3 linked regions of the Homo sapiens genome follow. The protein of the gene in region 1 interacts with the protein of each later gene in a pairwise test. Each region holds a gene or a part of one and is shown on either strand. Other genes may lie near its edges.

Evidence for each region.
Region 2: the proteins of EML1 (region 1) and ISG20L2 interact in binary tests that used the Homo sapiens proteins (3 or more experiments, as listed by UniProt).
Region 3: the proteins of EML1 (region 1) and STIP1 interact in binary tests that used the Homo sapiens proteins (3 or more experiments, as listed by UniProt).

Annotation. Positions count from the first base shown.
Region 1 is NC_000014.9:99,894,367-99,901,528, forward strand, and holds part of EML1 (echinoderm microtubule-associated protein-like 1), read left to right. Parts: intron 1-262; coding exon 263-392; intron 393-2,778; coding exon 2,779-2,928; intron 2,929-3,866; coding exon 3,867-3,936; intron 3,937-6,562; coding exon 6,563-6,673; intron 6,674-7,162. UniProt on the Homo sapiens protein: Modulates the assembly and organization of the microtubule cytoskeleton, and probably plays a role in regulating the orientation of the mitotic spindle and the orientation of the plane of cell division.
Region 2 is NC_000001.11:156,725,767-156,732,842, forward strand, and holds the start of ISG20L2 (interferon-stimulated 20 kDa exonuclease-like 2), read right to left. Parts: upstream 3,001-7,076; 5' UTR 2,649-3,000; exon of another isoform or gene 2,004-2,648; 5' UTR 1,887-2,003; coding exon 1,140-1,886; exon of another isoform or gene 1-1,139. Other genes in the region: METTL25B (methyltransferase-like protein 25B), read left to right, coding at 3,339-3,449, 6,225-6,349, 6,515-6,707. UniProt on the Homo sapiens protein: 3'-> 5'-exoribonuclease involved in ribosome biogenesis in the processing of the 12S pre-rRNA. Displays a strong specificity for a 3'-end containing a free hydroxyl group.
Region 3 is NC_000011.10:64,196,142-64,203,303, forward strand, and holds part of STIP1 (stress-induced-phosphoprotein 1), read left to right. Parts: intron 1-1,129; coding exon 1,130-1,256; intron 1,257-1,351; coding exon 1,352-1,454; intron 1,455-1,712; coding exon 1,713-1,833; intron 1,834-3,798; coding exon 3,799-3,895; intron 3,896-4,027; coding exon 4,028-4,152; intron 4,153-6,734; coding exon 6,735-6,771; intron 6,772-6,983; coding exon 6,984-7,087; intron 7,088-7,162. UniProt on the Homo sapiens protein: Acts as a co-chaperone for HSP90AA1. Mediates the association of the molecular chaperones HSPA8/HSC70 and HSP90.

The sequences.
Region 1 (7,162 bases):
TGGAATCAAGTTCCTTCCTGCCTTTTACAATTTCGTAGGTATCTCATGTACTTAAGTAAACAGAATATCAAAAGCAAACAAGATGCAAACTTTTGTTTCAAACTGTTTATTTTTATGTTACTTTTTTCCCTAGGATATCAATTAGAATGACAGAAGGGTAAAAGTTTCTCTTTTATACTGAAAGGCTAGAGAGGATAAAGCATTTGTTTTCAGGTACGCTGGGCACTGAGGTATCTTACTGAAATCTTTGTTCTTTTTGTAGAAGAAGGCTATGTAAAAATGTTTCTTCGTGGACGCCCTGTTACCATGTACATGCCCAAAGATCAAGTGGATTCTTACAGCTTGGAAGCAAAAGTAGAACTTCCAACCAAGAGACTCAAGCTGGAATGGGTGTATCCTTTATTCATTGATTAGGTCTCACATGAAGTTATCAGTCAATCAATGCTTGATGTTAACTGTAGAAATTCATAAAACTTAAGTCCTCTTAAGCTTTTAAAAAACAAAATGTTTTACTGTTACTTTTGAAAACTTAATGTAACAAAATTGACTATATGTTAGAGACCTACAGAGTTCTAACAAAGTAGGAGCTTCATAAGAGCGGCTTATTATCAGGAGAACCAACTTATCATTCCTGAACGAAATAGCTGTGGTTCTGGCTCAAATACATGTTCATTATTTTGCTGAAAAGAAAATATGAAGATGTTATATGATTGTATGAGTGATTTTTTTCTTTGTCAGGAGAAAATGAATCACTAGTTTCTGGTCCGAATTTTATTCTTTCCAAAAGAATGACAATAGTAGTTAGAAATATATAAAGAAGTGAACAGTGAAAATAATCAAGAATGGGTAGAATTTTAGATTCTAATGAGAACTGATTTTTTTTTAAGAGATAGTCTCTCCCTATGTTGCCCCAGCTGTTCTTGAGCTCCTGGACTCAAGCAATCTGCTCGTCTCAGCTTCCCAAAGTGCTGGGATTATAGGCATGAGCCACCATGCCCAGCCAAAAGCCAATTATTTTTAACAGGAGCTATCATATACTTAGTCAACTCTTCAGGGACAGATGGAAAACTAGGCACTCTCTATATTTATAAGGAAACAACAGTGACAATGCAAGAAAATATTGTCCTTATGATTGAGGAAATGGGAGTATCCAAAATTGAAACTAAACCACATTGGCAAAAAAGTTTTTAAACCCAAAGAAAGAGGGGTACTCTGAAAGGAGGACTAGCATTCTCCCCTTAAACCAAGTATGGACTTGGCCAGCCTTAGGAGCCAAACTTCAAGTGTGACCTTGACTGAAGGGATGATAGAAAAATATGAATACCAAAGTACTGAATGAAGGGAGTCAAGTGAATGACGTAAATGAAATTGACATATCACGTAGATATCATCCTACTTTAAAAAAAAAAAAACTAGCTACAGGGATGCATCCCTGTAGTCCCAGCTGTTCAAGAGGCTTAGATGGAAGGATCCAGGAGTTCAAGTCCAGCCTGGGTAACTTGGCAAGTCCCTGTCTCAAAAATACATATATTCATATCAATCAAAAAGGCTCCCCAAAAATCTAGGCCACAAAAATCTGAATCAACCATATAACTAACGTTCTTGAAACAGAGGTGCTGGTAGCTTCATGGCATGAGGTTTGGAAAAGTGAGCTTCCAGGGGAAAAAACAACTGAAAGATAAGAAAATAGAAACTGTGAAAAAGGTGAATTAATTGTTGATTATTTTTCCATTTTCTTATTACTTTAGAGGAATCCTGCAGAGACCACCTTTCAGTCTATGCAGATTTTAAGGGAAAAAAAAAATTTTTTTTCACCTTCAAATATTTGAGTACCTGTTTAATGCCAAGCCTGGAACACAAATTATAAGATGTTGGTTTAAATTTAAGCTATTGTGACTTCATTTAGAATAATTACTATTTGAGATTATGGAATCATATTCCTTAGAAATTTTTTAAAATTACCACCTGTACCTAAATTTCTCCCCCAAAATACTTTTTTTTTTTCCAGATTCAAATGTCATAGGCATTTACCTGCACCTGTTTTGGAATCTATCTTGATACATGAAATTGAAGTGCTTCAGCTCGTCTTTAAGTCAGTAGTGGTTTATTAAACGGTTATATCACATCTGGAAAACATTATTCAAAACATTTATTCAGCCTACTTCCTGTTCATATTTTAGAAGATGTAAAGCAATGAAATTTGCTCTAAATAAATGGCATTTTTTTGGCCATTATTTGGCATCTTGCCGGGTTACTTTTTACATCCAAGTTGAAGTGATATTTTGTTCTCAAAATAAAATAATTTTCAAGGTTTGGAAATATAATGCAAAAATTTTAACAGGGATTCTTATCCCAAAGGATCTGAGGGGCCTGATTTTTTTTTTTTTACCTTTTATGTATGTTTGTGTGCATGTGTGTGTGTCATTTGTACCCTTTGTAAGTACTTTTACCATGTTTAAAAAAGGAATTTTTTAGTAAAAATTTAGCTCGTAGATTACAGTAAAAAAATTAATAATTGACTCAATAGCTTTCTAAAAATAAAACCAAATCATTGTGAAAATATGTATTCACATTACATCAATGACTGTTTCAACTTTACTGCATGCCTTTTGGGGGTCACATGTATTTGTCATGGAATATTTGCAATTTAATGTTGTTTAAATTAGTGATGCTGATGGTAATAGTTATATGGTATTTTATTGCCTGTGCCTGTTGAATAAAGCTGATGTTTTGTCAGCTCTTAAAGGGAAAAAAAATTTTATCTTGACATCCACAAAGCTATGGGTACAGGGGTCGAGACTGCCGTAACAACCTGTACTTGCTTCCGACGGGAGAGACCGTCTACTTCATCGCATCCGTGGTGGTGTTATACAACGTGGAGGAGCAACTGCAGAGGCATTACGCTGGCCACAACGATGACGTGAAGTGGTAAGTCCTGAAACAGGTCATTCCTGCGACTCAGAAGGCGAAGGTAGGAGGATCGCTTGAGGCCAGGAGTTCCAGACCATCCTGGGCAACAGTGAAACCCTGTCTCTAAAATAAATAAATAAATAAATGTGATTCCTGTTGCACAGGTGGAAATAGCATTAGCAGAACACGGTCAGTATTGGGACATAACTAAAGAGAAGGAAGAGGGTCTGAGGAAATGAGGTCTTTGGGAGAGCTCTTCTGTGTGGTCTCCTTGTGGTCCGCTCACTACTGCGCTCCGTGAGACCCCTCTCATGTTTAATTTTCCAGCCTCACCAACGCATGAGCTTCACGGACCACATTGTCTCAACAAACAGCGCCACCTCTTTGGAGGCCTTCTTAACACATCATGTATTAAAGGCTTCTAATTTGGGTCTTTATTTTTTGATAAACATAAAAATGTGTTGCCTCATGTTTGTGGCTGAGTCGGCTCTTCCCATAATTCATTTATAGCTTTTGGTAGGCATATTACATATCTTGGAAGGATGGATGCGTGAAGAGATGGATTTATATATTTGTATTTGTCCTGGTTCCTTGGTCAATGATAAAAATCCTGTTCACGAAAGATGGTATCTTTCCTATTTATGTACTCAACATGACTTTTTAATAAAGATTGTAGACTAATGTAGTGGTTCTGAGATTGAAATGGTATTTTCCCAGCAGAGGATGCTTTTTCCTTCAGTTTGAAAATTCTTAAGAAGAAATAAGGGAATTAAGATGAAATGAATTAGGTACTAGTTGTCTAACGTCGTGGTGCTCAGAGAATTTGTCATGAGTCTGTAAGAAGTTAGGCATTATATATTTCTTATATTTAAATTTTTGACTAGATTATATTTGAGCAAGGGAAAAGTAAAACTTACCTGCAACATGTAGATGTTTTGTAAATATCCTTTTCTTAGCCTAGCAGTTCATCCTGATCGGATCACGATAGCAACAGGACAAGTTGCGGGCACATCGAAGGATGGAAAAGTGAGTTACGTTACCTTTTCATTGTTTCATAATGAACTGGTAACACAAAGTAATTTTTAGAAAACATTGTGCTGCTGAGTAAGGCTGCTTAGATATAATTATGGTATCTGAAAACTTCTGAACCCCTCACTAGAATTTTTTATTGTAAATTAGAAGACTTATTGTGTGGCAGGGTGCGGTGGCTCACGCCTGTAATCCCAGCACTTTGGGATGCCAAGGCAGGCTGGATCTCTTGAGGTCAGAAGTTTGAGACCAGCCTAGCCAACATAGTGAAACCCGTCTCTACCAAAAATACAAAAATTAGCCAGGCGTGGTGTCACATGACCGTAGTCCCAGCTACTCTGGAGGCTGAAGCAGGAGAATCACTTGAACCCGGGAGGCGGAGGTTGCAGTGAGCCAAGATCATGCCACTGCACTCCATCCTGGGTGACAGAGAGAGACTAAGTCTCAAAAAAAAAAAAAAAAAATACTGACTGTGACCTTAAAAATCCCTGGAGCTCATCTTAATTTCATCAGATTTTTAAATAGCATTGTTCTGAACAAAGAATTCGCTAATTCTTAAAATGTTTATTTATATGATAAGTATTAAAAATATGAAGGTAAACATTTAATAAAGTTAAAATTATAATAATAATTTGAATGTACAACATTTTGCCAAATTTCAGCCACCCTCTGCCCTGTCCTGTGAATGTCGTTTAACAGTCGTGACTTTAACCCGTGAAGTTTGTGTCTGTGTGCAGTCACAAAAGCTACTAGGAGGTTTTTAGCACAGATTTTGCAAGCACTTCAGCAAGACTTTAATTTGCATTTTAAGGCGTTAGAGAGGGAGCTTGTAGCTTTTTTGATATCTACTTTTATATAGCTTGTTATTGCATAATATTTTATCTGAAACTAATTTAAGTACATACATTTTATCAACATGTTTTCATCCAGAAAAAATGAATACTACCATATTTCAGAAAATATTTTAGTAACATTGGATTTTAAATATTAATCTTATGCTATTTTCCATTAATTTTTTTTTTTTTCTTGAGACAGGGTCTCACTCTGTCACCCAGGCTGGAATGCAGTGGCACAATCACGGGTCATTGCCACCTCTGCCCCCACAGGCTCAAGTGATCCTCCCACCTCAGCCTCCTGAGTAGCTGGGAGTACAGGCACACGCCACCTCGCCCGGTTAATTTTTGTATTTTTGGTAGAGACAGCGTTTCACCACATCGCCCAGGCTGGTCTCAAACTTCTGGGCTCAAGCGATCTGCCCACCTCAGCCTCCCAAAGTACTGGGATTACTGGCGTGAACCACTGCGCCTGACCTGCATTAATATTTTATACTTGAAAAGAGTTAACAGAAATAATGGAAATCAGACCACTATTATGTAAATAAATTTACTTAAATTGAATGGGTCTTTCAATTTTTTTTTTTTTAATGTTAAATGGCTTTGAAAAATTCTTTGAAATTAGTGGTAAGCTATTTGTTCCTCCCTCTAGTGGCTTAAAAGTATATTTCAGTTTCTGGCATTGAAATTGAATCGGTACTTTAGAACTAGAGAAAAATATTATAGTTATCTTTCAGTTTACCCATAGAGAAATCCAGAGAGGCCTAGTGAATGCCCGCGGACACCCAGCTGCTTAGAGATTAGACTGAACTAGAACTTGGTTCACCTAACGCCTGCCTAGTGTTTCTACTAGGTCCAAGGCCAGCACCTTTTCTTACTGATAAATCTACTGATTGCTCTATGATGTTTTCTTCTATTAAGGAAGAGAAAAATTAGCGTAAATAACCTAGGAACACAGTTGAGAGGATTTTAAACCAATTATAACAATTCTAAATCTTATTTGTACATAATTGATGCCTGTTTTGCCCAAGAATATTAAGCTCTTTTTTTTTTTTTTTTTTTTTTTTGAGACAGAGTTTTGCTCTTGTTGCCCAGGCTGGAGTGCAGTAGTGCAATCTTGGCTCACTGCAACCTCCACCTCCCGGGTTCAAGCGATTTCCTGCCTCAGCCTCCCAAGTAGCTGGGATTACAGGCATGCACTACCACGCCCGGCTAATTTTTTGTATTTTGTAGAGACAGGGTTTCACCATGTTGGTCAGGCTGGTCTCGAACTCCTGACCTCAGGCGATCCACCTGCCTCAGCCTCCCAAAGTGCTGGGATTACAGGCGTGAGCCACCACACCTGGTCTGTTAAGCTCTTAATATTATTTGGTGGTGACCATCTTATGAATTTAGGCATGGTGACACCTTAGCAACAAAACAGACTTTAAAAGAATAACCCATATGTGAGATTCCATTTTACTTGTCATTTTTCATTTCTAAAATTCAGACACATTTAGATGCACAAATTAAAGTGTCAGTTCCCATGGTACTATTGTCAAAAATTGGCCATTCAAATTCTAAAACTTGGTAGACCTCTCCTTACTGTTAAATTATCAACAAGGCCCTCCACCTCCTGAAGTCATCGGGAATGTTTTATTTACATAAAAAGGCAGACTCCTGAAATGCAGAAAAAGATCTTTTGTTTTGACAAAGTCCGAGTTACTGCCCAAGTAATCTTGTAGCTTCAAGGTAAAGACACATGTGTATCACCATCACAATTGATGGCTCTGTGTTTCTTTTCTGAACAGCAATTGCCCCCACATGTGCGCATCTGGGATTCTGTGACATTGAATACTCTCCACGTCATTGGAATAGGTTTTTTTGACCGAGCAGTCACCTGTATTGCATTCTCAAAATCTGTAAGTATGTGCCCTGTGGATATTGCTGTCTTCTTCCACAGGAAGTAGAGAATCAACTCAGGGTTGAAGAGGGGGAGTTGACACACTCGATACCTGCCTGGGTGTATGTACAGATTTGGACTCTGAAACATTCCTGCTTCCCAGAACCCCTCAGTCAGAGGTCATATGCATGTCTCATCAGGGACACACACTTCCTTCCAATCAGACATCTCCAGCCACATGGGTTTGGTGATGAAAACAGGCCCCCAGAGATATCGTCCTCACTTTCCTTAAGGCAGTTTATGTGCTCTGGCCTTGAATTTCACCTGCTTCTTTCAAGGGTGGCTCCAGCGTGTCTGTCTCTGCCATCCTGCTACTGGAAAGGGGTCCCGATCCAGACCCCAAGGGAGAGTTCTTGGATCTCTTGTAAGAATTCAAGGCAAGTCCATAGAGTAAAGTGAAAGCAAGTTTATTAGGAAAGTAAAACACTAAAAGAATGTCTACTCTATA
Region 2 (7,076 bases), on another chromosome or scaffold:
TGCCTCTCCTATGCCTTTGCTTGGCTGCGCCCCTTTGTGCACAAGATGTTTAACTCTTCTTTCCGTCTTTTCTAAAATAGTCAGTCACCTCACCTCTAACGAACCTCCTCCAACTGACCGCATATAAGGCATTATGGGAACAGCGTGTCCAGAGAGGGCAGAGTGTGGACCTGAAACTGCAAAGACGTGGACCAAGGGCGCCCTCTGGCGGCCTCCTGAGACCAGCAGGTCTCTTGCTCTCCCTTCACTTCCTCTTTCACCCCTCCCAGCTCACTCTCCTTTCCGTTCATGCCTTGCGCTCCATGGCCAGCACAGGGCTAGGAGTGAGATGACAACCCGAAGTGCCGGCCCTGTGCCGTTTATGCCGTTCACTGGTTACCTGTTCCAGTTGGACAATATATACCCCAGCTCCTCCTGTCAACTTTCTGCCCTCTCTTACCACCACCACTTTCCGCACTTGCCCCAGGCTACTTTTTGCTTGGGACGAGCTCTCCACCTTTCCTCTCTCAAGCTTAGGCTCCAACTCGCAAGGTTTTTCCAAATCAAGCCCTTTCTCCTGACACTGGTGTCTGCAGCTCTGTCTAGTTTCATCACTTGCTGTTATTTTTCTATGCAGATTCCCAGTTCCCCAGACCCAATTTAGAACCTAAAATAGTTTTTTTGTTTGTTTTTTTGAGACAGGATCTCACTCTGTCGCTCAGGCTGGAGTGCAGTGGCAGTGGTGTGATCTCAGCTCACTGCAGCCTCGACCTCCTGAGTAGCTGGGACTACAGGCATGTACCACACTTGGCTAACTTTTTTGTAGATGAGTTCCGCTATGTTGCCCAGACAGGGCTTGAGTTCCTGGGCTTGAGCGATTCTCCCGCCTCAGCCTCCCAAAGTGCTGGGATTATAGGCAAGTGCCACTGCGCCCGGCTAAAATAGATCTTGACCAATGAAGTTTGTGACACCAGCTAATTGTACCTTCCTGACTTTCACTGCTTCTTCCACCGACAGGGGGCCTTCTTCAACAACTGATAGATTCTCCTCCCTCCCTCCACAAACGTTGGTGTCTTCCCATAGTGATATCCTTTGCTGAAAAATGATTTAGACCTCTCTCCATCCACCTCCCTGCCACCATCAAGCCCCATGCTTCTTACCTGGCCTCGAGCAATCTTGAAGGGTGTGGCATTCACCATGTGCTGCTTCCGGATACCACTCCACCTGGTTCGGTAGTCCACAATGTGGCAGGGGGGAAGAATGTACTCGTCATAAAGCACATCTCCGTTGTAGTTGACAATGCTACATCGAGCCAAGGAACTAACATGCCCCTTTGGTCCTGTGCCCACCATCTCACAGTCAATTGCCACCATCTTCCGTGGCAACTTCTGGGATGCTCCGGAGCATTTATTCTCTGAATGAGCTTGGGTGGAGTTCTGTGGGGCATTCTTCTGAGGATGGTTCTTTTTAGAGGATTTCTTCTGGGAGCTCTTCTTCTGAGAGCGGGTTGGGTGGCTATTGATCTTTGGAAGGGCACTCTGGAACTCCCCCAGCAAATCTACTTTAGCAGCAACAGAATCAGCCTTTTTTGAAGGGGCAGGGGTCAACCAAGACACTGCAGCTTTCTTGTCCAGGGGCTGTCCTGACCCATTGCTGGAAGCAGCTGTCTTCTTTTTTGGGAAGGAAGGGGTCTTCCAAGTGCCATCGACCGTAGGAGTTTCCCCTTTCTTTGAAGGTTCAGAGTGCAACTTAGGCGCCTTGCTAGGGGGTTGGTTCTTTTTACTCAGAAAGCCTCTCCGTTCTAAGAGCCTCCGCTTCTTGACAAAATTTCGGTGCTTGGCATTTCCTTCTAATGCCTTTTTGGGAGGAGGTTCCCCAAAATCCAGATTGAGCAGTAAAGTAGACATAGGGACAATGGAAGGCGGAAGAGTAGTTGGGAAGAGTGGCTTATGGATGAAAAGAGGATGTGGGACTCATTCTCTGCTGAATCCTACTGTCCAACATGTGGAGGTCTGTAGTACACCCTGGGGAAGAAAGTGATCCTGGTAATTGAGCTCCTAGGCCTGGGAGAAAAATGAGGTAAGCTCGATCTCCGTAGGACTTATGGAAGGAAAGACATCAGAGCAATCTCTCAGACAGAGGGGAAATGAAAACATAACATGAAATGATGGAGGGAGCATTGGTGTTAGCCAGCAAGCCTGGATTCTAGTGAAGCCCAATTCACCAGCCATTTGGTCTTAGTAAGGTCATTACCGCGCTCTAGGTTTGAGTCTCATTTGTAAAATGAAGGGAGTGGAGGGGCTTATAGAGCTCGAACCCTCTGAGTCTAAGAGGCTAGAACACGTGCGATCTATACTCCGCCTAGGAAAGGAACATCTAGGTATGCTCAAAAACAGTGAGAAGTATGGCGTAGATAACCTCTGGGCTACCCAGGCATCCGCAGCGTGGACCACCAATAGAGACACAAATCCAGGCATCCCTTTCCCTTGGCTCCAGGCCGGAATTGGGGGCAATCTCCGCATGCATCTCACCCAAGTCCTTCTCCCACGCAAGGACCTTGACACCATCTACCAGCGCGGGGGTGGGATCGAGGCTTGAGGCAGCCCACCTGGATAAGCATACTTCGGATCCCCGCGGTACAGATCGATCTCTCACGCTCACAAACCTACCTCCCAGACGGGTCCAGCTAAGACCGGAAGCGTCCGGAGCCGGATGCGGAAATCGGTGCGCGCCGACGAAGCCCGGGAAGGCAGGCGCGCGGGTTAGAACGCGCCAGAGGTCGGCGCGCGCACACCCGCACCGCCCCGACCCCAGGTAGTGAGGCCAGTGATTCCGAGTGTGTGAGGAGCGGCAGTGGCGGCGGAGGAGGGGGCGGCGTGGGTGGGGGCGGGGGCGGGATGCGCTCCCCGGCCCCTCTAGCCCCGTGGTGGTACAACGCGAAGGTGTGGGAAGGCCGCGATAAACCGGAACTGCAGCCCGCCGGACACCTCCGGCTTCACTTCCGTAAGAGGAGAGGAGTGTACGGCAAGGGGCGGGAACTGGAACTTGGCCCGCCTCGTTGTGAGCTGAGCTCAGCGGCACGCTTTTGTGGCGTCACTGCACTGTTACCCCGCCCTACGTGTCTCTGACGCTGACACCTTCTCACTGTGAAACGTCGCGACCTGTGACGTCTGGGGGGCGCCTCAAATCTTCCACTCCAGCATCGGATCCCGGAAAGGCAGCGTCGGAGACTGGACCCAAAACTCTTCCTGTTCTGCCTGCAGAGTTGAGCCCCGTCCGGGTCCTGGACCCGCGTAGTACTGACCCTGGATCCCTGTTCACTGCGTTCTCGCTCCCCGCGCTCCCTGCTGGACCCCGGGATGCCGGGCATCTCCGCCCGAGGCCTCTCTCATGAGGGGAGGAAGCAGCTAGCTGTTAACCTCACCCGTGTCCTGGCACTCTACCGTTCCATCTTGGATGCCTACATCATCGTGAGGCCACAGGGGCGTGGGTGGGATGTCTCTGGTCGTGTGGTTGGCTAGGTGCCCACGTCAGGGAGAGAATCTGGAGAATTAGCCTCTGATCTCTTTCCTTCTATGAGTTTCAGTCTTTTTCTGTACAAGAAGGGGTTAAAACTGGAGTGATCCCTCCTTTTTTTTCAGCTGACATAAATAATATTTCTTTTTTTTTCTTTTTCTTTTTTTTTTTCTTTTTTTTTTTGAGACGGAGTCTCGCTCTGTCCCCCAGGCTGGAGTGCAGTGGCACGATCTCGGCTCACTGCATAAATAATATTTCTAGTACCTACCTAGATTGTTTTTGTAATCTTCCCAGATCCAAGGTAATAAAATGCGTGGACATTGGAACCATGCTGCAACTATGTTGAACTCTTCTTGGAGCATGTCAGGTGTTCCAAGAACACACGTTATTCATCCAAGCTTTGAATAAATTCGTGGTTTTGTGGTATAGTAGACAGTCCTGGCTCTGGAATCAAAAAGGCTTAGTCTAGAATCCTGCCTCCCCTATGATGTTAACCTTAGGCCTCCCTAACCCCCAACTTGTCCTAGTCCGGGTTTCCTCAGCTATACAATGGATCCCAGTCTGAAGGATTATTGTGAAGAATAAATGAGAGAATGTGTAAATGGCACCACCATCCACTGAATTGTTTAGACCACAAACCCAGAGGCCATCATTGATTCAGTGCTGTCCTTCATTGATCCACAATCCAGTTCTTCAACAAGTCCTCTTGGCTCTGCCTTCGGAATAGATCCCAAATTCATCCATTTGTCCCCACCTCCGTTGCTGCCACCCTAGGCCAAGCCACCATCACCTCTCTTCTGAACTACTTCCTAACCGATCTTGCTGTGTGCTTACCTCTGCCCTGCCATTACCAATTCTTCACTGAGCAGCTAGATTGATAGCATTCAAATGTAAATCTGATCACGACAATCCCTTGCTTCCTAGATACTTTTATGAAATCCTAACTCCTTACTATTACCTATAAAACCCATATTCTGGCTCCTACTGTCTCTTGAACTCTATCCCATTTTATTCTCTCACACATTTCACTGTGCTATACCTCTGCTGGCCTGATTTCTGTTCTGCCAATATGGCAGGCATCTGGACCTTTGCACTCACTGCTCTTCCGCCACAGAAAGGCAATCGCAGAATGGTTAAGAACAAGGACTCTAGAGTAAAATTGGTTTCAAATCCCAGCTCAGGCCGGGTACGATGGCTCACACCTGTAATCCTAGCACTCTGGGAGGCCGAGGTGGGTGGATTGCCTGAGCTCAGGAGTTTGAGACCAGCCTGGGCAACACGGTGAAACCCCGTCTCTACTAAAATAAAATAAAATAAAAAAATAGCTAGGCTTGGCAGCACACACCTGTAGTCCCAGCTACTAGGGAGGCTGAGGCAGGAGAATTGCTAGAACCAGGGAGGCGGAGGTTGCAGTGAGCTGAGATCGCGCCACTGCACTCCAGCCTAGGTGGCAGAGTGAGACTCCATCTCTAAAAATAAATAAATAATCCCAGCTCAGCTATTTGCTAGCTTTTGGACGTGGGCAAGTTACTTAAGTGCTGTGCCTGTTTCTACATCTGTAAAATGGGGGATAAAAAATAATACCTACCTCAAAGTGTTGTTTAAAGGATCAAATGCATTAATACATGTCAAATGTTTACAGCAGTACCTGGCCGAGAAGGTGTTAAATAAGTGTTTGCTATTACCTGTATTTTCTTTACATGCCTAGCACCTATTCATCATTCAAGTCTCAGCTCAAATGTCACCTCAGACAGGTCTTCCCTCATCATCCTATCTAAAGTAGTCCTTGCCCAAACTCTCCATTACATTACTGTTTCATTAGTGTTTTGTCTATATGACATATGATGTTGTCTGAAGTTTTGTTTTGGTTTGTTTTTTTTGAGAGGGAGTTTTGCTCTGCTGCCCAGGCTGGAGTGCAGTGGCACAATCTAGGCTCACTGCAGCCTCTGCCTCCAGGGTTCCAGTGATTCTCCTGCCTCAGCCTACTGGGTAGCTGGGATTACAGGCGTGTGCCAACATGCCTGGCAAATTTTTGTAATTTTAGTCGAGACGGGGTTTCACCATATTGGCCAGGCTGGTCTCGAACTCCTGATCTCAGGTGATCTGCCCGCCTTGGTCTCCCAAAGTGCTGGGATTACAGGCGTGAGCCACCATGCCCGGCCAAAGTTATTATTTTTTTTAATGTAAACTCTGCAGGAGCCAGAATCTTGTCTCAGGTTCACTGTTGTATTCCCTGAGCCTACAATAGAGCTTGATGTATAACCGAAACACAGCCCCAGAATTTGTGGTGGACGAATGAATAAAAAGACACCAGTGTCTGGCACATATAATGCAGGTTACTAAGTGGTAATGTACTAATACTGTGTGTCAGTCACTCTGGTAAGTGTTAGGGATGCAGATGTGAAGATACCATCCCATCCCTCCCCTTAAGAAATTCAATTTAATAGAGAAAACAGACACAAATAAGTGCAGAAATTGCTAAAAGAAGTGTGTCCAGAATGCAATCTGGACTCCAGGGAAACAGAGTTAAGCCACCAGAGTCGGGGAGGCTGGAGCAGGCTTCAGAGAACTGACTCGGCTTAGCAGGAGGTACCTGCCAGTTACAGGCAGTGGCCCTATGTGGCAGCAGTGCTGGGAAGAGGCAGGCAATGAGGTGTGTAGTTGAGAGTGGTGTGGGAAAGAATGGGAGTGGTAGTAGCTTGCTGATGGCTTCTCCCCTTCTTCTGTAGGAATTTTTCACAGACAACCTATGGGACACACTCCCTTGCTCATGGCAGGAAGCATTGGATGGACTGAAACCACCACAGCTGGCCACAATGCTGCTGGGGATGCCTGGGGAAGGGGAGGTCGTCAGGTATGGGCTAGAAGGTCCCTGTGCTGGGGAACTCAAGGCTTTAAGCCCTGCAGTGAGCATATTGCTCAGAGAGTCTCATAAGGTCTTCCTGGGCCTCGGGTTGTAAACTGCTGCACTCAGATGTGATGGGACTATTCACTGGAGGCCTCGGCTGGACTATCTCAGGTACAGGTCAGTGTGGCCACTCACCCTGCTGGCCCTGAAGTCCACGGCGTGTGCCCTGGCCTTTACCCGGATGCCTGGCTTTCAGACCCCCTCAGAATTCCTGGAGAACCCCAGCCAGAGCTCCCGACTAACAGCTCCATTCCGGAAACATGTCAGGCCCAAGAAGCAGCATGAGATCCGGAGGCTGGGAGAGGTGAGGAGATGGCTGGAGCATGGGTGGTGTCTGGGAGCCCAGGGACTCCTTAAGCCTGGCTTACAAATATGTGTGCCCTTTACCTCACATGCAAGGCCAGAGGCCCTAGACATTCCTTTACCTCAACAGACATAACTAATCATATTTTGATGCTGGGGTTCTTTTTCATTCTTTTGTGGGGTTGGTTGGCAGCTAGGTCTGAATCACTGTCTCATTCCTGTTCCCAAATCTCCACAATCTGCTCATGGCTTCACGCAGGGTTCTTGTTCTGTGGGGGAGATTGAATCACTGACCTGTGAGGCAAGGAGAGTGGGCCTGAACCTGGGGTCAGGTCCACTCTCCTTGCTTCCACCCTCACCCTTATATCTT
Region 3 (7,162 bases), on another chromosome or scaffold:
TCCCAGCACTTTTGGAGGCCAAGGTGGGCAGATCACCTGAGGTCAGGAGTTCAAGACCAGTCTGGCCAACATGGTGAAACCTCATCTTCACTAAAAACACAAAAATTAGCCAGGTGTCATGGTGGGCGCCTGTAGTCCCAGCTACTCGGGAGGCTGAGGCAGAAGAATCGCTTGAACTCGGGAGGCAGAGGTTGCAATAAGCTGAGAGCTCATCACTACACTCCAGGCTGGGTGACAGAGCGAGACTCCATCTCAAAAAAAAAAAAAAAAAAAGCTTCACAAGAGCATTCCTAGGAGTAATGTGTAGCAAAGAGTGAGCTGCGGGAGTTGCCCTTCCCGTGGTCACCACAGCGGCTTCATTGCTGCCAGTGTGAATGTTGGTCCTAGCAAGACTGGAAAGTTGAGAGTAATTCACGTCCTTGTCGTGATCCGAAGAATGTTGTCCACATCAATCCCTAGGCCTTTGCTTCCTGGCTGGACATGGTGTGTGGTTGGGAGTGTCCGCTAAGCAGCACTCTTTTAGAGCAGAAGGCATGTGCCTCAACGATTTCATTTCCCTCCTTGTAAACTGGAACAGCAGATTGTTGCCAAATTTAGCACCTTGAAATGGGTAAGCGTTGGTTGTTTAGGGTGTCTCAGCTGGAAAAAGGCCCTCCAGTGTGGGCGGTAGTGAGCTTTGCTGAAGACTCGTGCCACTCAGCCGCTTCTCATCCTCTCACCACCCCCTCTGCTATGGTTCCCTGACAACTAAGACCCTGAGGCAACCACAAGACTGACACCAGATCTGCTGCAGCCTCAGAATAAAGCCTGGTCCAAAACTCTGCTGTCCTCACCGGTTGCTTCAAGTCGAAGGGATTTCCTCTCCCCTAAAGAAGCGCTCTGCTTCCTGACAAAGATCTAGGAGAGTAGGTGGAAAAGGGGGAGTTTCAGAGCAAGCAAAGATGAAGTTAGTTTTCATTCTAACGGCTGATACTTTATTGTCTATAGCTGACTGATGAAGAGGCCTTCAGGAGAACTTGATAGAATTCTATTCATGTTAGTTGCATTTCAGAACTTGTGACAGATCATAGATTCTTGCTTTGTCACCTGAGTTAGATTTGCTCAGCACTCACTTCTAAACCTCATCTAGGCACTGAAAGAAAAAGAGCTGGGGAACGATGCCTACAAGAAGAAAGACTTTGACACAGCCTTGAAGCATTACGACAAAGCCAAGGAGCTGGACCCCACTAACATGACTTACATTACCAATCAAGCAGGTGAGGCCCAGAAACAAGGGGCAAGGGAATTGTTGGGTGTCTCTGAGGGAGGAAGCAAAGACTGACTGTTCCTTCTTAACCATCCTGCCTGGCAGCGGTATACTTTGAAAAGGGCGACTACAATAAGTGCCGGGAGCTTTGTGAGAAGGCCATTGAAGTGGGGAGAGAAAACCGAGAAGACTATCGACAGATTGCCAAGTAGGCTCAACCTTCCAGAATACCTTGAGTAGCGCGGAGGGTTTGCTGTCCAAGACTTAAGTTTCTCTGCATGGGGAGGAGGGCTGCTGGCCATAGAATCTGCTGTGTTAAGAAAGGGCTGGCAAGAAGGTCACCAGAGACAAGACAAAAGGTGTTGAAGGCAGTGATGCGGGCCTTTCTAGCTGCAGGTGTGTTTTTCTGCAGGAGCTGACTTTATCTCTCTGTCCTAAGCAGTCCTTGTCCCTCTTTCTTTATCAGAGCATATGCTCGAATTGGCAACTCCTACTTCAAAGAAGAAAAGTACAAGGATGCCATCCATTTCTATAACAAGTCTCTGGCAGAGCACCGAACCCCAGATGTGCTCAAGAAATGCCAGCAGGTGCGTAGGAAAAGAATAGGGGTATTTTCTTGTTTTCCTAATAATTGAGCCATTGTTTCTTACTGTTTTATTTAATAATGAACTTGACTTTTTTTTTTTTTTGAGATAGGGTCTCACTCTTTCACCCAGGCTGAAAGACAGTGGCACAATCGTGGCTCACTGCAGCCTCAACCTCCTGGGCTTCAGTGATCTTCCCACCTCAGCCTGAGTAGCTAGGATTACAGGCACGTGCCACCACGTCCAGCTAATTTTTTTTTTGAGATGGAGTCTGTTTGTCACCCAGGCTGGAGTGCAGTGGCATGGTGTCTGCTCACTGCAACCTCCGCCTCCCAGGTTCAAGCAATTCTCCTGCCTCAGCCTCCCGAATTGCTAAGACTACAGGTGCACGCCACTATGCCCGGCTAATTTTTGTATTTTTAGTAGAGATGGGGTTTCATTATATGGACCAGGCTGGTCTCAAACTCCTGACCTCATGATCCACCCACCTCAACCTCCCAAAGTCCTGGGATTACAGGCCACTGCGCCTGGCCACGTCCAGCTAATTTTTTTATTTGTAGAGAAGGGGTCTCACTGTGTTGCCCAGGTTGGTCTTGAACTCCTGAACTCAAGTGATCCGCCCTCCTCAGCCTCCCAAAGTGCTGGAATTATAGGCGTAAGCCACTATGCCTGGCTGAACCTGATCTTTTTTTAGGTAGTGGCTTTGGTCATCTTACATGATTCTTTCTCTGTCATTTAACAGTGACAACATGTAGGAAGTGATCTGGTGTTTTTTTTTGTGGTTTTTTTTTTTTTTTTTTTGCAGTTTTTGGTATTGGCCAAGATTTCAACCCTAAATGTGTTAATATTGAGGGCCTGTGCATTGAGAATGTTAATAGTTCTTGTAACATAACATTTTGACTATTTTATAAAGACTGTAAATTTCTTTTAAAATCTTGCCAGCAATAGCCGGGTGCAGTGGCTCACGCCTGTAATCCCAGCACTTTGGGAGGCTGAGGTGGGTGGATCACAAGGTCAGGAGTTCAAGACCAGCCTGGCCAGGATGGTGAAACCCCGTCTCTACTAAAAATACGAAAAAATTAGCTGGGCGCAGTGGCAGGCGCCTGTAATCCCAATTACTCAGGAGGATGAGGCAGGAGAATCGCTTGAACTCAGTGGGGCGGAGGTTGCAGTGAGCCGAGATCATGCCACTGCACTCCAGCCTGGGTGAGAGTGAGACTCCATCTCAAAAAAAAAAATCTTGCCAGCAATAGCCAGTCGCAGTGGCTCACGCCTGCGATCCCAGCACTTTGGGAGGCCGAGGTGGGCGGATCAAGAGGTCAGGAGATCGAGACCATCCTGGCTAACACGGTGAAACTCTGTCTCTACTAAATAAATAAAAAAAATTAGCCTGGTATGGTGGTGGGCGCCTGCAGTCCCAGCTACTCGGGAGGCTGAGGCAGGAGAATGGCGTTGAACCCGGGAGGCAGAGCTTGCAGTGAGCCGAGATCGCGCCACTGCACTCCAGCCTGGGCGACAGAGCGAGACTCTATCTCAAAAAAAAAAAAGAAAAAAATCTTGCCAGCAATACTCTGAAAATTAAAATCCTAATCTGATTTTTTTTTTTTTTGAGATGGAGTCTCGCTCTGTCACCCAGGCTGGAGTGCAGTGGCGCGATCTCGGCTCACTGCAAGCTTCCGCCTCCCGGGTTCACGCCATTCTCCTGCCTCAGTCTCCCGAGTAGCTGGGACTACAGGCTCCCGCCACCACACCAGGCTAATTTTTTATATTTTTAGTAGAGACAGGGTTTCACCATGTTAGCCAGGATGGTCTCGATCTCCTGACCTCGTGATCCACCCGCCTCGGCCTCCCAAAGTGCTGGGATCACAGGCGTGAGCCACCGCGCCCGGCCCCTAATGTGATTTTTAAGCCCAATATTTAGATGATTATGAGCGTTTAAATTATTATTTCAAGAATTATGTTTTGTAGGCAGAGAAAATCCTGAAGGAGCAAGAGCGGCTGGCCTACATAAACCCCGACCTGGCTTTGGAGGAGAAGAACAAAGGCAACGAGTGTTTTCAGAAAGGTACTGCCTGCAGCTGGGGGATTGGGGGAGCAGTGCTGGGTGTGCCTCCCGTGCCTGGCTGTGGGGTAAATGGCCGGCTACACATGGGGGCTTTTTGCTTTTTAAAAGACAGTCTTTGTTTTTCTTCCCCAGGGGACTATCCCCAGGCCATGAAGCATTATACAGAAGCCATCAAAAGGAACCCGAAAGATGCCAAATTATACAGCAATCGAGCTGCCTGCTACACCAAACTCCTGGAGTTCCAGCTGGCACTCAAGGTGACGAGACCTGTGGGGGCGGCCATTACTGAAAGCCTGCACATGAGGAGTGGGTTTTCTCTCTCTCTCCTCATCAACATTGAGTTGATGATGATCATGATGTTTGAGACAGTGTCTCACTCTGTCCTGCCTCAGCCTCCTGAGGAGCTAGGACCACAGGCTCATGCCTCCACATCCTGCTACATTTTTTATTTTTTTTGTAGAGTTGGGGTCTTGCTGTGTTGCCCAGATTTATAGGGGTGTGTGTGTGTATGTGTGTGTGCGTGTGTAAAATATGGGACCTGTATCTAACTGGTCGTGTGTGTGTGTGTGTGTGTGTGTGTGTGTGTGTGTGTAAAATATGGGACCTGTATCTATCTAACTGGTCCTGGTCCATGGAGTCACTACTGGTTGGCAGTACATTGGAAGGTGGGTCCTTTCACCCCTGTAACCTTCCTCTTTTTTCTTTGTTTTTGCCTTTTTAACCATTTTTAAGAAGTGGAATTGCTGGGTCATGTGGTGTCTGTGTTTACTTTTTTTGTTGGTTTGTTTGAGACAGTCTCACTCAGCTGCCCACACTGGAGTGCCGTGGCACAATCTCGGCTCACTGCAACCACCATCTCCCGGGTATTTTAGTAGAAACGGGGTTTTACCATGTTGGCCAGGCTGGCCTTGAATTCCTGACTTCAGGTGATCCACCCGCCTCAGCCTCCCAAAGTGCTAGGATTACAAGCGTGAACCACCACGCTTGGCCCCCTTTTTTTAAAAAAAAAAAAAAAAAAAGACAAGGTCTGGCTCTATCGCCCAGGCTGGCTGGAGTACAGTGGCACAATCTCAGCTCACTGCAACCTCTACTTCCCTGGCTTAAACCATCCTCCCACCTCAGCCTCCTGAGTAGCTGGGACTACAGGTGTGCACCACTGTACCCAGCTAATTTTTGTATTTTTTATAGAGACAGGGTTTCACCATGTTTTCCCAGGCTGGTCTCAAACTCCTGGGCTCAAGCGAGCCTCCTGCCTTGGACTCCCAAAGTGCTGGGATTACAGGCATGAGCCACTGCGCCCGGCCTATGTTTTATTTTTGAGGAACCACCATATGTTTTTCAGCAGCTGTACCATCCTTGCTTGCTTTTCTGTTTTGCTCAGCTAGGTAGGTCTGCTGTTCTCAGTCATATCAAGTTAGGTCAAATACAATTGTTTGACACTGTGGAGTTCCCATAATCCTCTCGAATCTCAGCCACCCTGCCTCTATCAGCAGTTTTTTTTGACTGTTCTCTAGCTGACAAACCTGGACCGTATTGTGGGAAGGTGACAAAGTGTGACCTGTCTAGAAACAGCCATACCTGGGTTTGTGTTGGTTTTTATATTTTGTGCCACTGTCTTCTGGGTCTGTGTCTTGGCCTAGAGACATCATTTCTACTAGTAGGATTGTGCAAGAGTCATGTCAAAAGCATATTGATTTGTGAGGCAAAGAATAGCAGGTTGTCAATCACCTGGGAGGTGGGCAGTACTTTCCCGATCATGAGAGCGTGGAGAAAGAATGAATGGGATTTCTGCTGCTGTCCCAGCTTCTTGGTGCAAGAGTTGGAATTAATTCCAGGGGAGCTCAGTGTACTGCATAGTGTTCTCTTCCTCATCATTTCTCACTTTGAAGATGTTTCAAAGAGAAGAATACATAGTGAATATCTGGTGTATCTTCCACCTTTATCTGACAAATGTTGACCTGTTTTTGCTGAACTGTTTGCGAAAGGAAATTGTATACATTTGGTACTTAGAATGAGACATCCAAGTCTTGTGCACGCATTGCCTGAAAAGACTCCTGTCCAGTGCAGCACTGTCAGCACACGCGACCTCACCAGACCAAGGCCTGATGCCATCTGCCGTCTGTCCATCCATACTTAGACTTGCCCACTTCTCCAAAAATATGTTTTAAAACTGAGGTTTTTTTATTTTTGTTTGTTTGTTTTTATTTTTTTTTGAGACAGAGTTTCACTCTTGTTGCCCAGGCTGGAGTGCAATGGCGTGATCTTGGCTCACTGCAACCTCTGCCTCCTGGATTCAAGCGATTCTCTTGCCTCAGTCTCTTGAGTAGCTGGGATTATTACAGGTGCAGCCACCAGGCCAGCAAATTTTTTTTTTTTTTTTTTTTTTTTTTTAGTAGAGATGGGGTTTCACCATGTTGGCCAGGCTGGTGTCAAACTCCTGACCTCAGGTGATCCACCCACCTTGGCCTTCCAGAGTGCTGGGATTACAGGCATGAGCCACCGCACCCAGCGTTGTTTTGTTTTTTAGTCAGCAATGGTTTTGGATTCCAAAGCTCTCAGGACCAAGGCCCACGCATTTTGTCTAGTTGTCATGTACTCTTCAGTTTCTCAAACTGGAATTGTCCCCCGCTATGTGTTTTTCATAACATCAGCCTCTTGCAGAGTCCAGGCAGTTTGTCTTGTGTGGGATGATCCATCATCTGGAGTTGTCTTTCCTGATGTTGTCCCCTCTGTTTGGTGCTGGGTGAGGCATTAGAGTTGGAAGTCCACATGCTTGAGTTGCCTGTACTGAGCTTGTCCAAGGGAATGAGCCTAATTTCTTTCTGTTGCTTCATTCTAGGACTGTGAGGAATGTATCCAGCTGGAGCCGACCTTCAGTAAGTGCCTTTCTGCTGCCTGTCCCCTGTCTCTAGCCAAAAGATTAGAGAAGGAAAGGGCAAGCCCTTTGTCTACCTGTGTGTCCTTGGGACCTGTAGGATTTAGGATCCAACATCAGCAGGTGTGAACAGTGTTGGTGTGCAGGTGAAGAGGTGCAAGGAGCAGCCTTGGGCGCTGCGGTTGGATAACGCGCCACCTTTCCTGTTTGTAGTCAAGGGTTATACACGGAAAGCCGCTGCGCTGGAAGCGATGAAGGACTACACCAAAGCCATGGATGTGTACCAGAAGGCGCTAGACCTGGACTCCAGCTGTAAGGTGGGGCTGCTTCTGGCCTCCAGGGGCCCCCCCTGCCTCTTTCTCTGTTGGGGCTTTTCCATGTTCAGTCCCTGA